2 separate regions of the Homo sapiens genome follow, and region 1 is linked to region 2. A link means that fine-mapping ties the variant in region 2 to the expression of a gene that starts in the linked region. Tissue or cell type: spinal cord. Region 2 holds a variant in brackets; the other region holds the start of a gene. All regions are shown on one strand. Distances are from middle to middle.

The links.
Region 1: LYPD1 starts here. The variant in region 2 is fine-mapped to the expression of LYPD1 in spinal cord (GTEx, PIP above 0.99).

What each region holds. Positions count from the first base shown.
Region 1 is chr2:132,667,913-132,671,912 of GRCh38, reverse strand. LYPD1 (LY6/PLAUR domain containing 1) reads left to right here and starts at 1,708. Exons shown (of 3, transcript NM_144586.7): 1 at 1,708-2,032; 2 at 3,376-3,513. The coding sequence starts at 1,981. NCKAP5 (NCK associated protein 5) reads left to right here. Exons shown (of 20, transcript NM_207363.3): 20 at 1-125. RefSeq lists an enhancer at 1,882-2,845.
Region 2 is chr2:132,586,531-132,590,988 of GRCh38, reverse strand. All of the region lies in intron 1 of GPR39 (G protein-coupled receptor 39), which reads right to left. Among named protein-coding and RNA genes, the nearest start is that of LYPD1, 81 kb to the left of the region's middle. The variant C/T (reference allele first, on the strand shown) is at 1,827.

The sequences.
Region 1 (4,000 bases), 81 kb before region 2:
TGTGCAATTTGTTTTATTTTATCTTAAATGAAAATTATGTAAAATGTCCTTGTCTTTCAGACTTTAAAAAATCTTTTTGTTTCCTTTCTGAATAAAAGTTATATCACATTTGCACCCTCTGAAAACAGAAAATAACTTGCTCAAGGACCTTTTGGCCCAGTCAGTTACTTGAATCATGACTCACACGTGCTCTTACAATGGGTTCCCAGAAGGAATAAATAAATTGGCCCTTTTGCTCCAGAGATAGTAATTTAGCCAATTGTAAGATCAGAGTCTGCAGACAGGTGAGTAATGGTCAAAGCATTTCAGTCTCCCCGAGGGGTTAACCAAATAGAAATGAAAGAAGGGGGAGAGGGAGGGAGGGAGGGAGAGAAGGAGCCTGAGGCAGATATGGAACGATCTCTGCAGAGGAATTACAAAGAAAGTCATTTAAGCCCCTTTACAGACCAGCTCTGCTGGGAGGATGCAGAAATAAATGATCAGCGTCCCGGCGTGAGAGAGCTGCCCCCAGAAGTGGCCGGGGGAGAAAAGGGTGAAGAGGAGCTAAAGCTTAGGAGGCGATTTCCACGGAAATGGATGCTCCCTAAGGATGTGCGGAAAGGGGATGGGAATGTGCGGATTGGGGGCGGGGGCACCAACGCACTCCGGCGGGCAAGCGGTCTCCCGCACCACCTGCTGCAAGGCTCGGGAAGGAAGGCGAAGATAGCACCGGGGCATCCCCGGGAGTCCGCAAGGTGGGTCACTTGGACTTTGCGGAAAGAAGACGAATTTGAGGGGTGTGGGGAGCAGCCAGAGGCCGAGTCCGAGGCTGGGATGGCCTTTCAGGAGAGGACGTGGGAGTATGTGCTAATAATCGGTGGCTTTGGGGAAAGCAGAATGGAGCCGGCTGGCGTTTGGGAGACAAGGAATGGAGGAGAACAACCCTCTTCCTCACCCTGATTTGCTTTCTGGTAGGACCTCACGGCAGGTGTCCCCGGGACGGCGTTCTCCTAGGCTAGGCGACCAGGGCGGTGTCAATGCACCCTCCAGCGGTGCGCGCAGGCGGGAGAAGGGAGGGCGGCCCGGGCAAGTGAGACAGTTAAGGCAGTGTCCCCACCACACCCCCACCCAGATTGGCCACGCCGAGCTGGTTCTTGACAGAAGGCCTTCGCGGAGGAAGAGGGGGCACAGCTGCACAGGACACCCTACGGAGCCTGCGGGCGTGGAACTTTGCCAGGCGCACGGGAACGCGCGCCCTTCCTGTCAGCCTCCCGGGGCGCCAGGCTCCCGCGGCCCGCAGCGGGACAGCCTCAGTTGTGTGGGCTGGACCCAGTCGCTGGGGTACCGACCAGTCCTGGAAGGCGCAGAGGACGTGGAGTGGGGAGGCTGCCTTCCTATGTGCGAAGGGCCAGCCGGGCACGCAGTCCTCAGACCCTAGTCCGCACCCGGCAGGTCCCCACGGCACCTGCTGCGCCCTCCTCGCCGCTCCCCCAACCTCCCCATCTCAGAAAACTACCAGTTCTCTCCCGCCCCCCGGCGCCCCTTTCCCAGGAACGTGCGGAGGCGGGAGAAGAGGAAGACAGGAAGGGGGTGGGGATGTGAAGCGACCGTCCCAGCCTTCCCCGCCCGCCACCCCCACCCCAACTCGGCAGCCGTCACGTGATGCCTGGAGTGGGAGGTGGGGAGAAAAGGCGAGACTTTTGTGGGTGCTCCCGATCGCCAGTAGTTCCTTCAGTCTCAGCCGCCAACTCCGGAGGCGCGGTGCTCGGCCCGGGAGCGCGAGCGGGAGGAGCAGAGACCCGCAGCCGGGAGCCCGAGCGCGGGCGATGCAGGCTCCGCGAGCGGCACCTGCGGCTCCTCTAAGCTACGACCGTCGTCTCCGCGGCAGCAGCGCGGGCCCCAGCAGCCTCGGCAGCCACAGCCGCTGCAGCCGGGGCAGCCTCCGCTGCTGTCGCCTCCTCTGATGCGCTTGCCCTCTCCCGGCCCCGGGACTCCGGGAGAATGTGGGTCCTAGGCATCGCGGCAACTTTTTGCGGATTGTTCTTGCTTCCAGGTGAGAATACCCAGAGGCCAGCAGCCGAGGCCAGGTGCGCACAATCCATCTACCCGCCAGCCCTTTTGCCCCCAAGGCGCCCACCTCGGGGCCAGCCCTGCGCTGGGGCTGCCCAGCGGGAGTTGGCGGCCGCGACTGGTGCCCCGGGGCGCGAGGCTGGGAAAGTGTCCAAGTCCCGCGCTGCAGGAGGAGAGCGGGGAGCGGCGGGTTTGCGGGACTCCGGGCTGCAGCTTGTCCGGCTGCACCGTCGGGAGAAGCTGGGCTTGAGAGGAGGGAGGGTCCGAGCGGTGCTGGGTTCTGGGCGAGGGAGAGGGGGCGACATCTCCCGAACCCTGCCAAGTTGTCTGGCGCCTCCGGCACCCCGTGGGAGTGGCGCCGCCGACAGGTGAGCGATGCGCGAGGCAGCCTGCGGCCACGCTGAAGCTGGGTTGCTGCGCTCAGAGTGCGATAGATGTGGGGCTGCGGGAGCGTGGGTAGTTGGGTCTAGACAGGAGCGCGTACACCGAGAACAGCCAGGCCGAAGCGTCCAGAGGCGCAAAGGTCTCGCGTCCTCTCTCCAGTTCGCCTACTGGCTCCCGACTAAGCTCTGCAGAGCTGGAACCCCGACCACTGACCCTAGTCGAACGGTTGTCCTGAAAGCCGGGGCCTGGAAGAAAGGGCTGCGGGGTCGGGGATCCAGGGTGCGCGCGCTCACAAACGCCCTTTCCCACCCTCTGTGGCCATTCGGGTCGCCGCGGGGACGGCCCCGGAGAAGGGCCGCCGACCCGGGCTCGGGGACTTGCGGCGCAGCAGCGCTTGGCGTCTGGCACCTCCACCCAAGTTGTTCCCAGGTGGTCGCTCAGGGATCCTCAGAGCCCTGGCACAGAAACGCTGACTTTAAAAATTAAATAAATAAAAACTAAAAAGACGTCTGCGAATGTAATCACGAATGGTGCCAAAATAGTAATTAAGTAATTTGTAACCAATTAGCAATTAGGCAAATCCTTTGGCTTAGGCTGGAGCTAACGCACATCTCCAGAGCTACTTCACTCTTGCGGTGGTACCGTCCCCACCCTCCCTTCAACTTCTTGGGAAAAGGCCTGGGGTGGTAATGGATGGGCGCTTTGTGTCTAGAGCCGGGGTCCAGGGGTGGCGGGCACTATTCCACTTTCTTCCGTAGGACCCTAGGTACCCGCGCCGCCCCCTGCCGGTGTCAGCCACATCCAGCCCTACCCGGAGACCCAGGAGTGGTCTAAGCCTGCCAGAGGCTGGGAGCCGCCTGGCTCTGAGGCGTGGGATGGTCGTGATTTCCGGGGTGGGCTCTGTGGGGGCCGGATCTGAACCCGACTGCGTCTGTCTCGCAGGCTTTGCGCTGCAAATCCAGTGCTACCAGTGTGAAGAATTCCAGCTGAACAACGACTGCTCCTCCCCCGAGTTCATTGTGAATTGCACGGTGAACGTTCAAGACATGTGTCAGAAAGAAGTGATGGAGCAAAGTGCCGGTAAGAGCCTGGCAGCCCTCCCCCTCGCTCTTAAGCCTGGGCTGTGGGGTGGGAGTGAGGGGGCCATTAAATAGCAGGAAAAAGGACTGACTTTGATTTAATGCCCACACACTGGTTATCGCAGATTTAGTTTTACAGTGCTGGGAAAATGAAGAGTTCCAAGTTACTTTAATCTCATTAGAGTTAATTACCAAGGCTTCTCCCCAAGGGTCTTGGGAGGGGAAGTGCATGTAAATTAGTGGCTCTCCTCTTTTTATTTACTCCCTTCACCTCCCTATGCTAAAAGCTGATGGAGGTAGAAAATATATGGCTAACCAGCCCTGGCTTGGGCAACTAGACAGTAGCCTGTGAGCATTGTCAGCCTGAAATATGGAGCTAGTTGAAGCTCCCAGAGGTCAGAGCTTGAAAAATGTGTTTTGTCATAGAGGCACACCATATTTCCTTGAAGAACACTACAGGATCTTTGTTTAATTTTAGAACTAATGCA
Region 2 (4,458 bases):
TGAGCCACCGCGCCCGGCCTGTTCCTCTGTTTTTATCCTAGCTGTGCTGGCAGCTGATTAGATGGTGCCCACCCAGGTTGAGGGTGGGTCTGTCTCTCCCAGTCCACCAATTCAAATGTTAATCTCCTTTAACAAGACACACACACACACACACACACACACACACACACGAACAATACTTTGCATCCTTCAATCCAGTCAAGTTGACACTCAATATTAACCACCACAATATATCAGTCTTCCCAGGTGGTTGGTGGGAGTCCATCCCTGAAAGACAGACCCAAACTCATCATGCTGACAGTAAGGATGAGGAACAGTGCTTAGGCTTGAGTGCCACTGTTAAAGCAAGTGACTCTTTTTACAGTCTCTTAATCTTCTCTTCTTTGGCAAGTCCCAAACTCAGTGCCTACCCTTGTGGTCTCAATGCAACCCCATCTGCTTGGCTTTGAATCAAATACTAGTAAGCCTCAGCCCACCATAGGTCTTGCGCCTAGTCCACTCCTCATTCCACTCATGTAGAAACAGGGGCTGAGTGCTTGTCTAAGGTCACACAGGAAACCAGTGACACTCTGGGCTAGAAGCTCAGGGCTGATCCTCTGAGGACCTAGCCATCATCTGTGTGAATGTGCACATGTAAGCATGTGTGTGTGTATCTTCAACCTCACTGTGTTTTCTCCTTCTGACTAAACCTTTCTCTCTCATTCTCATTCCTTAGATTTCTCTTCTTGATTTGATAAGAAACAAACTTGCTAGCCAGAAAATGCTAGCAGTGAAATCCAAAAATTGACCAGTGTGTGGTTTGTTTAAACATTACCTTGCAGCATCTTTGCATTTGAATTTCTGTTGCTCAATAGCATCAAGTTATTTGGTTTTGGCCAAACTCAGTATTATGTCAAAGAACAAATGATAAACTGTTTGAAGTTTAATTCTACTATATGAAAAGAAATAATGAGAGCAGCTTAATTTCTGCAAAGGCATGTTTTTGTTCAAATGAACTTTAAGCAGAACTAGCACATTCATGGGGGTTACTGAGAAATAAAATTAAGGCACATCAGCCCTTTTCTCCCACATATTAAATTACAATGCCTTTCTCACCTTCCCCCTTCCCTTAATAAAACAAATGCTCAAACTCATCACTGAGATAGAACCAGCTGCCCCAGGTCCTGTAGCAGCAGGGAGAAATACAGACATTCCTTCAAGTTAAGTGTAATTTTAATCTTTATGGCTCTGGCAGTTAGAGCAATGGGACACCTTTTGTTTGGGAAATACTGATCCCTTAAGCTGAAAACTAATAAAACCAAATAGGCTTTCAGGAATGTTCATCAAGTGAGAAAAGCAAAAGGAAAGGCTCCATAAACTAGCTGTGTCCAAGCATAGAGGCCACTTCTGCACACACAGCCCAGACGCTCTCTAATGTGCCCGAGTATGCAGGAGATCTCGGCTCTGCCTAAGACATCTGAGCTGGAACTCAAAGAGGAGCATAGTGCCTATTAGTTCAAATGAAATTAGCTTAAAGGATATGAAAGTTTTATCAGATAAGCGAAGTTAATTGAAATTACATCTCTGCCTAGAAGTTATGCACATGGAAAAAATGATTTGATTCAACGTGACAATTAAAATCTCATTATGTATCCTGTCCCCAGTGATCCATGGGAGACTTGAGAGCTGAGGGAGGACAGGCTAAGCCTCTTGGCTCGGCAGCCGATGTGGAGGAGGCATGGTTGCCAGGTAACTGCTTAGTAACCAAGAAGGCAGAGGGGCAATGGGGAGGGGGGGACATGGCCAGAAAGGCTGCCTCCAAGCTTTTGTTGCAGACATGGGTCCCA[C/T]GATTCTTTGCCTGGACCTACATAACAATCTTGGAACAGTGAAAAAGCTCTCAGTCAGCCCATTTGTCTTTGGCTTACACAACCCCAAATAGTTAATCTGATGGGTTTTTAAAAATATGATCAACTTGACCAACCAGTTGTTTAGGCATTTGCAGAGTCTAAGTTAGAGCTGTTCTAAGGGGAGATCAGAGCAAGAGCAGGCCCAGTTTGCCCTCAGACCCTTTCTGCTTGGTTTCTCTATCTCCCCATTTGAGGCTGATTCCAAAGGTTTCTGCAAAAACATCTCTCATCCCACAGCCTCTTCTACAATGTGTGTTTGACACACTTGCATTGAAGGGGTGGAGTCCAGTCCTCCTCTGCTCATCACAGTGGACTTGGGACTGGTTCTATGAATAGCATGTGATAGTGGTGACAGTGTGTGACCTCTGGCACCAGGTCTGAAAAGATGCAGCTTCTTCCTTGTTCACTGGAACATTCAAGCTTGAAGCCCTGAGCTTCCAGGTAAGCAGACTTTCAATTCTGACTTCCCAATGCCACCATGCTTCAAGGAAGGAAAATGACAAGCAGTCTTCGGTCTCCTCTCCCAGAAATCCCAGCAGCCCAGGCCCCACACACAGAGTGAAGCAGCCTCCAGATAATTCTAGGCTCCCAGCCATCAAGTCAGCCCCCAGCCTCCATGTTTTCTTAGCTGAGATTCTAGACATCACAAAGCAGAAACAAGACATTCTCACTGTGCCCTGCCTTAACCCACAGAAATGATGAGCATAATAAATTGGTAGTGGTTTAAACCAGTAAGTGTTGGGATAGTTTATCTTGCAATAACTAAGACCCTTGGCCATCCTTCCCTCCCACCAAGGGATACAGAGCTCTTACTTCTGCTGAGAAGGGAGAAGGTGCAAGTGCGAAGAGAACCTCCCTCTCACTAAAGGGGTACAGAGGAGAGCTGGACCAGTGCTACAGGTCTTTAACCCATACATTGCTAGCCACTGCCTGCCTTTTTTAACTCCAGGACCTTCTCCATCACAATCGCAAACACCTTTTCCCTTCTTTTCCACCTCCTCTCACCTTCAGTCTCTTTCCAGGCTGAACCTTCTAGTCTGCAATAGGATGTCAAGATCCTATACTCCATGAGTTATACCCATACTGAAGGCCCAAGTAAGACACCTCAGCACCCTTACCATGAAACTCATGAACCTTAAAGCTGGTTTTCATTCATTATTCCAGTCAACTCCTCATGTTCATAATAGACTGCCCTCTCTGTTCCATCACCAGAAAGTACATGGCCATGGAAAAATAACTTACTTTAACATATATTAAAGACAAATCTAGGCTGGGCGCAGTGGCTCATGCCTGTAATCACAGCACTTTGGGAGGCTGAGGCGGGTGGATCACCTGAGGTCAGTAGTTCAAGACCAGCCTGGCCAACATGGCGAAACCCCATCTCTACTAAAAATACAAAAATTAGCAGGGTGTGGTGGTGGGTGCCTGTAATCCCAGCTACTCGGGAGGCTGAGGCAGAGAGAGCTGCTTAAAAACCCAGGAGGCAGAGGTTGCAGTGAGCTGAGATCGCACTACCGCATTCCAGCCTGGCCGATAGAGCAAGACTCCATCTCAAAAGAAAAGAAAAAGAAAAAAGAAAAGACCTAATCAAGAAAGCAAAGACACTCCCATTTTAAAAAGTATTTCACTATAGTCCAAAGCCAAGTAACAACAAATATACACTTCTTATGAAGGACCTTAACACTAACACTGGCCCCAGCTCCAAGAGGCAGTTGTTCTTTAACAGTATCCTGGTTCTTGGCCTATTATGACAGAGAGTAATCTAAAAAATAACTGGAGAAATGGCGAAAGAGCCACAGATCTCCTAATGTGCTGTAGAACCTTGGTTTCTATGCTTTTGTTTGTTTGGAGATACTTTTTTTAAACTGCACAACTTCACTGAAAGACTTGACAGCTCCCACTTCCAGCAGATACAATGCTGGTGAAATGCCACAGCAATCACCACAGATCAGAATCATCCCGGACCGTCCTAATCTCTCTGGAACCAAAGCTTTTCAATGCAGTCTTTACCGCAAGACCTTTACAAATTTTAACTGTGGAAACATATTTTCAGTCTTTTAATGCTGACAAGCAGAAAACCAGATTGAACATATAAACTCTTGATACAGTATGAGAGATACCCAAATTTTAAAATCCTACTTTCCATTGCAGCCCACTTATTACATCAGAGATATTTTCTGATGGACATCAACCTGAAAGAAAACCTAAAGAACTAAACTATCTCCATTTCCTGAAGAAGTTGGAGATATTGCTGAGAGTCATTTGAAACCAGGTACATGAAGAAAGACATCGAGAATCCCATATGGTGGGCACATATCTACAATCTCAGACAGCACCATATTCTTTTGAAGACCCAGCAAACTGTGCACCACGCAGTAAGTGTCTGAGTGAATTCCTCTAGAATATCTCTAATTATAAGCTTAAAGACTATCACCTTGTGGTTTAAAAATAAAATGTGATGCCTGCCAGGCCTGAATTCAGCAGCTCTGCTGTGGATACATCCTAACCCATCTCTATCCAGGAAAGTGGGAGTTGATGTTGCTAAATTGATGTCAGGAAGGATTGCCAGGGA